Regions from separate parts of the Homo sapiens genome. Here region 2 is linked to region 1. The links come from fine-mapping of genetic effects on gene expression. A gene starts in region 1. The other region holds a variant in brackets. All regions are shown on one strand. Distances are from middle to middle.

Region 1 (2,758 bases):
TAATCATTCTGGCCAGAGAATCCACAGGCAACAAGACCAGGGAGGCTCACTGGCTCCAAGCAACAGACAATGATGTCTTCAGACTAGGGTGATAGTATGGAGACAGGGAAGACACCTCAGAGGTTCCCCATGGGACTCAGAATAAAATCCAAATTTTAAAAGTCTGAGCCGGGCATGGTGACTCACACCTGTAATCCCAGCACCTGGGAGGCTGAAGCAGGCAGATCACTTGAGGTCAGGAGATCGAGACCAGCCTGGCCAACATGGTGATACCCCGTCTCTACTAAAAATACACAAAAACACTGGCCAGGTGCGGTGGCCGGCGCCTGTAATCCCAGCTACTCAGGAGGCTGAGGCAGAAGAATGGCTTGAACCCGGGAGGTAGAGGTTGCAGTCAGCCGACATCGTGCCACTGCACTCCAGCCTGGGCGACAGAGCGAAACTCCGCTTCAACAAAAAGAAAAAAAGAATTCTAAAAGGCCATTTTCAAGGCCCCGCCAGATGGTTCCCCTCCCTTCTGCTTCATCCTTGACATTCTTCAAAAGGACAAGCCCATCCTACCAGGGCCTCTGCATTTACTGGCCCCCCTCTGTGTGGAAGGCTCCACCCTCCAGGGATTCCCATAGCTGGCATTCATTGTCTTAACTCAAATGTCCTCTGCTTGAAAAGGCCTTTCCCTGGGCCAGGTGTGGTGGCTCACACCTTTACGTAACCCCAGCACTTTAAGAGGCTGAGATGGGAGGATCGCTTGAGCCTAGGAATTCCAGACCTGCATGGGAAACGTGGCAACACAAAAAACACACAAATTCGCTGTGTGGTGGCGCGCATCTGTGGTCTCAGCTACTAGGGAGGCTGAGGTGGGAGGATCACCTGAACCCAGGGAGCCACAGTGAGCCACTGCACTACAGCCTGGGCGACAAAGTGAGACCCTGTCTCAAAAAAAAAAAAAAAAAAAAAAAGAAAGAAAGAAAGAAAAGGTCTTTCCTGACTACCCAATATCAGAAGCCTCCACTCTGATCATATCATACGTAACCTCACATCATACGTAAGTTTTTGTAAATATTTTCTCATTAATGCACTGACACCCCAGTAGAAAGCAACCTCCAGGAAGGCAGGGCCCTGTTTCGGTCACCGCTGCATGCGTAGCGCCCAGCACACTGCTTGGCACACAGTGAGCACGCCCTAAGTATCTGCTGATGGGTAAATGCATTCTATTCTGGGGAAGCAGAAAGGCCAAGGCTTGCAGCAAAGTGAGGGTCAAAAGACGCGGGAAAGTGTGTCAAGGGAGCCTCAAAGCACTTCGGAAAAGCAGCTTTTCCAGAAAGCGGGACACAGGCCAGAGGCCAGCTGCGACGAAAAGAGGGGTGCAGGGACAGCCCAAGGTTGTCGCCGTATTGGGGAACGGAGGTTGGAGCAGCCCTGAAGGCGGTTGTTTCGGAAACGGGACGCAGGGCCGAGCCGGGTGGCGGCCTCTACGGAGATCCGTGCGTCCTCAGCAAACCAAGCGGGGGCGGCCAGCAACCTGGGTCTGGGGTCTCGAGAAACCAAGAGGTGCAGAAGCCGACGCTGTGGGCTGCCCCGGGGCTGAAGCGAGGGATCCACGGGTCGCAGCAGGACGGACCCGAGGAGTCAGGGGAGACACCTAGCCCCAGGGACCCAGGCGGCCGCCTGAGAGGAGGCGGGGGCTGTTACCTGCAACATCCCGGTTGTCCATCTTGAGACTCATCCAATCCCACAATGCTCCGGCGCCCCTTAAGGGGCCCTGTTATAGTGTGCATCGCCTGATGGGAGATGTAGTCCGCCTCGGTCAGACTCGCCCTATTACTGCGTGAACGACTGGGTTTTTTTTTTTTTAACCTCCAGAAACGGAAGCCTCAGCCTATCAGCGATGCCTAAGTCCCAGTCACGATAACCAAACGGCGTCGCCCTTTTACACCTTCCCGGAGCGGCAGTCATCCCAAATACAAACTACATGTTCCAGGATGCTTTGGGCGGCAGATCTCGCGGAAGCCGCGAGGAGAGCCCGGCCCCGTCTCGCGCGCCTGCTTCCGCCTCCCTGTGGCGGCGGCTTGTTGTTGTGGAGGCCAAAATGGCGGCTCAGGCGGCGGCAGCGGCCCAGGCGGCGGCGGCCCAGGCTGCGCAGGCCGAGGCGGCCGACTCGTGGTACCTGGCGCTTCTGGGCTTCGCTGAGCACTTCCGCACTTCCAGCCCGCCCAAAATCCGCCTGTGCGTGCACTGCCTGCAGGCCGTGTTCCCCTTCAAGCCGCCGCAGCGCATCGAGGCCCGTACACACCTGCAGCTGGGCTCCGTTCTCTATCACCACACCAAGAACAGCGAGCAGGCGCGCAGCCACCTGGAGAAGGCGGTGAGCGCGGGCCGGGCCGCGAGGGAGGAGTCGCGGGCTCCTTGCAAGATCTGGGCTGACGGGTCGCGACCGCGGCGGGTGGGGGGCCGCTCCTCGGCGACCTGGGGGCGCGACCTCCGTCAAAGCCGCAGGACCCCCACCCGCCTCTGCCGGACCCCAAAGCCACCAGCCTCTCAAGGGACACGAAAGCCTCGCCCCCCACGCCTTATTTCCCGTTTCTGGTGACAGGGCTCCAGGAGCCCCGTCACCGTACTCTGAAAGTTGCCTGTTATTGGGAGCAACAGGATCCGCAAATCGTCTGGTTTTCAGGAGGATCCCACCTGTTGGTGGCGATGGGGACATCACAGGGTCCTGAAGCTATTAGCTCCTCCTGGTTCAGCTTCCGGAGCATCA
Region 2 (3,017 bases), 78 kb before region 1:
AGTGAAGGCTAAACCTTCTCCCCTGACTTCCCCAGCCCAAGTAAACAGACCGCGCCCACGAAGCTGCAGAGGTTACAAACCTGAGACTAGGGTCTGATGCCTCCCCTACTCACTCTGCCTGGTCCCCCAGCCATGGTCTCTCAAATATTCTCATTTCTAGCCTGGGCATGATGGCTCATGCCTGTAATCCCAGCACTTTGGGAGGCCAAGGTGGGCACTTGAGACTAGCCTGGCCAACATGGTGAAACCCCGTCTCTACTAAAAATATAAAAATTAGCTGGGTGTGGTGGCCCACGCCTCTAATCCCAGCTACTCAGGAGGCTGAGGCGTGAGAATCGCTTGAACCTGTGAGGCGGAGGTTGCAGTGAGCCGAGATCACTCCACTGCACTTCAGCCTGGGTGATGATAGAACGAGATCCTGTCTCAAAAAAAAAAAAAAGTATATATATGCCAGGCTGGTGGTCCATGCTTGTAATCCCAGCACTTTGGGAGACTGAGTGAGGAGGATCACTTGAGCCCAGGAGTTCAAGGCTGCAGTGACCTGTGATCACATCACTGCACTCCAGCCTGGGTGACAGAGCGAGACCCTGTCTCTAAAAACATATTAGCTCAGCATCCTCCCTGCTTCAAGCCCTCCCAGACTCTCCATTGTTCTCAAGATAAAAATTCCCCTTCTCCCGCTGTGTAAAAATCTGGCGGTTCCTCACACAGTTAAACATAGAAGCTGGGCACAGTGGTACGAGCCTGTAGTCTCAGCTATCGGGAAGCTGAGGCGGGAGGATCACTTAAGCCTAGGAATTGGAATCCAGCCTGGGCAACACAGTGAGACCCCCGTCTCTAAAAATATAAAAATAAAAATAAAAAGTTAAACATAGAGTTACCACATGACCCAGCGATTCTACTACTAGATACATACCCAGAAGAATTGAAAACAGAGATTCAAAGTGGTACAAAAATGTACATTATTCGGGTCATGGATACACTAAAAGCCAAGACTTTGCCACTAGATGATATATATTTTATTATATGCATATGCATATAATAAAATTGCACTTGTACCCTTTAAATTTATACACAGAGGCCGGGCACAGTGGCTCACGCCTATGATCCCAGCACTTTGGAAGGCCGAGGCAGGCAGATCACTTGAGGTCAGGAGTTCCAGAAGAGCCTGGCCAATGTGGTGAAACCCCATCTCTACTAAAAATACAAAAATTAGCTGGGTGTGGTGGCATGTACCTGGAATCCCAGCTACTTGGGAGGCTGAGGCAGGAGAATCACTTGAACCCGGGAGGCAGAGGTTGCAGTGAGCCAAGATCACACCATTTCACTCCAGCCTGGGCAACAGAGCAGGACTCCATCTCCAAAACAACACAAACAAACAAAAAATTGTACTAAGAAAGAAAAAGAGGCTGGGTGTGGTAGCTCACACCTGTAATCCCAGCACTTTGGGGAGGCCAAAGTAGGAGGATCGCTGGAGCCCAGGAGGTTGAGGCTCCAGTGAGCTATGATTGCACCACTGCACTCCAGCCTGGGTGACAGAGCAAGACCCTGTCTCAAACAAAACAAAACAGGCCAGGCGTGGTGGGTGACTCACGCCTGTAATCCCAGCACTTTGGGAGGTCGAGGCGAGTGGATCACCTGAGGTCGGGAGTTCAAGACCAGCCTGGCCAACATGGTGAAACCCTGTCTCTACTAAAAATAAAAAAATAGCTGGGTGTGATGGCACATGCCTGTAGTCCCAGCTACTTGCGAGGCTGAGGCAGGAGAATCGCTTGAACCTGG[A/G]AGGCGTAGGTTGCAGTGAGCCGAGATCGCGTCACTGCACTCCAGCCTGGGTGACAGAGGGAGACTCTGTCTCAAAAAACAAACAAACAAACAAAAACTTGTACATGAATGTTCACAGCCCCACTATTCACAATAGCCAAGGTGGGAACATCCAAAATACCCATCAACAGATGAAGGAAGAGACAAAATGTGGTCCATCCATGCAATGGAATATTGTTCGGCCATAAAGGAGAAGTTGGCCAGGTGCAGTGGTTCATGCCTGCAATCCCAGCACTTTTGGAGGCCAAGGTGGGTGGATTGCTTGAGTTGTGGAGTTTGAGACCAGCCTGGGCAACATGGCGAAACCCCATCTCTACAAAAAATTCAAAAATTGAGACAGAGCGAGACTCCGGCTCAAAAATAAAATAAAATAAAATAATAAACAAAATGTGGAATGAGCCAGGCATAGAAGGCCAGCTGTTGTATGATTTTTTTTTTTCATGAAGCATTCAGAGTAGGCAAATTTAGAGACAGGAAGTAGATTAGTGTTTGCCAGGGGCTGGGGTCGGGAGAAGGGGGAGTCACTAGTGCTCAATGAGTACAGAATTTTGGTGTGTTGTGATGAAAAAGTTCTGGAAATAGGCTGTGCGGGGTGGCTCAGGCCTGTAATCCCAACACTTTGGGAGGCTGAGGTGGATGGATCACAAGGTCAGGAGTTCAAGACCAGCCTGACCAATATGGTAAAACCCTGTGTCTACTAAAAATACAAAAATTAGCCAGGCGTGGTGGCGTGCACGTGTAATCCCAGCTACTCAGGAGGTTGGGGCAGGAGAATCGCTTGAACCTGGGAGGCGGAGGTTGCAGTGAGCCAAGATCATGCCACTGCACTCCAGCCTGGGCGACAGAGAGAGACTCCATCTCAAAAAAAAAAAAAAAAAAAGAAAAAGAAAAAGTTCTGGAAATAACAATGATGGTTATGCAACATTGTGAATGTAATTAGTGCATTAAACTGCACACCGCCTCTTGAACCCGGGAGGCGGAGGTTGCAGCGAGCCAAGGTAGCACCACTGCAATCCAGCCTGGATAATAGAGACTCTGTCTCAACAAAATAAAAATAACAATAAACTGCACACGTAAAAATGGTTAAAATTGGCCAGGTGCGGTGGCTCACGCCTGTAATCCCAGCACTTTGGGAGGCCAAGGTGGGTGGATCGCGAGGTCAGGAGTTCAAGACCAGCCTGGCCAACATGGTGAAA

The links. PIP is the estimated chance that this variant, and not a neighbour inherited with it, causes the effect.
Region 2: its variant is the best candidate, but not a certain one, in a credible set for the expression of SUGP1 in whole blood (TOPMed, PIP 0.51).

The regions. Positions count from the first base shown.
Region 1 is chr19:19,318,771-19,321,528 of GRCh38, forward strand. SUGP1 (SURP and G-patch domain containing 1) reads right to left here and starts at 1,739. Exons shown (of 14, transcript NM_172231.4): 1 at 1,693-1,739. The coding sequence starts at 1,726. It overlaps MAU2 (MAU2 sister chromatid cohesion factor), which reads left to right and starts at 2,059. Exons shown (of 19, transcript NM_015329.4): 1 at 2,059-2,365. The coding sequence starts at 2,090. RefSeq lists enhancers at 1,607-1,656, 1,677-2,166, 1,875-2,758 and a silencer at 2,218-2,439.
Region 2 is chr19:19,240,834-19,243,850 of GRCh38, forward strand. All of the region lies in intron 12 of NCAN (neurocan), which reads left to right. Among named protein-coding and RNA genes, the nearest start is that of HAPLN4, 20 kb to the right of the region's middle. The variant A/G (reference allele first, on the strand shown) is at 1,783.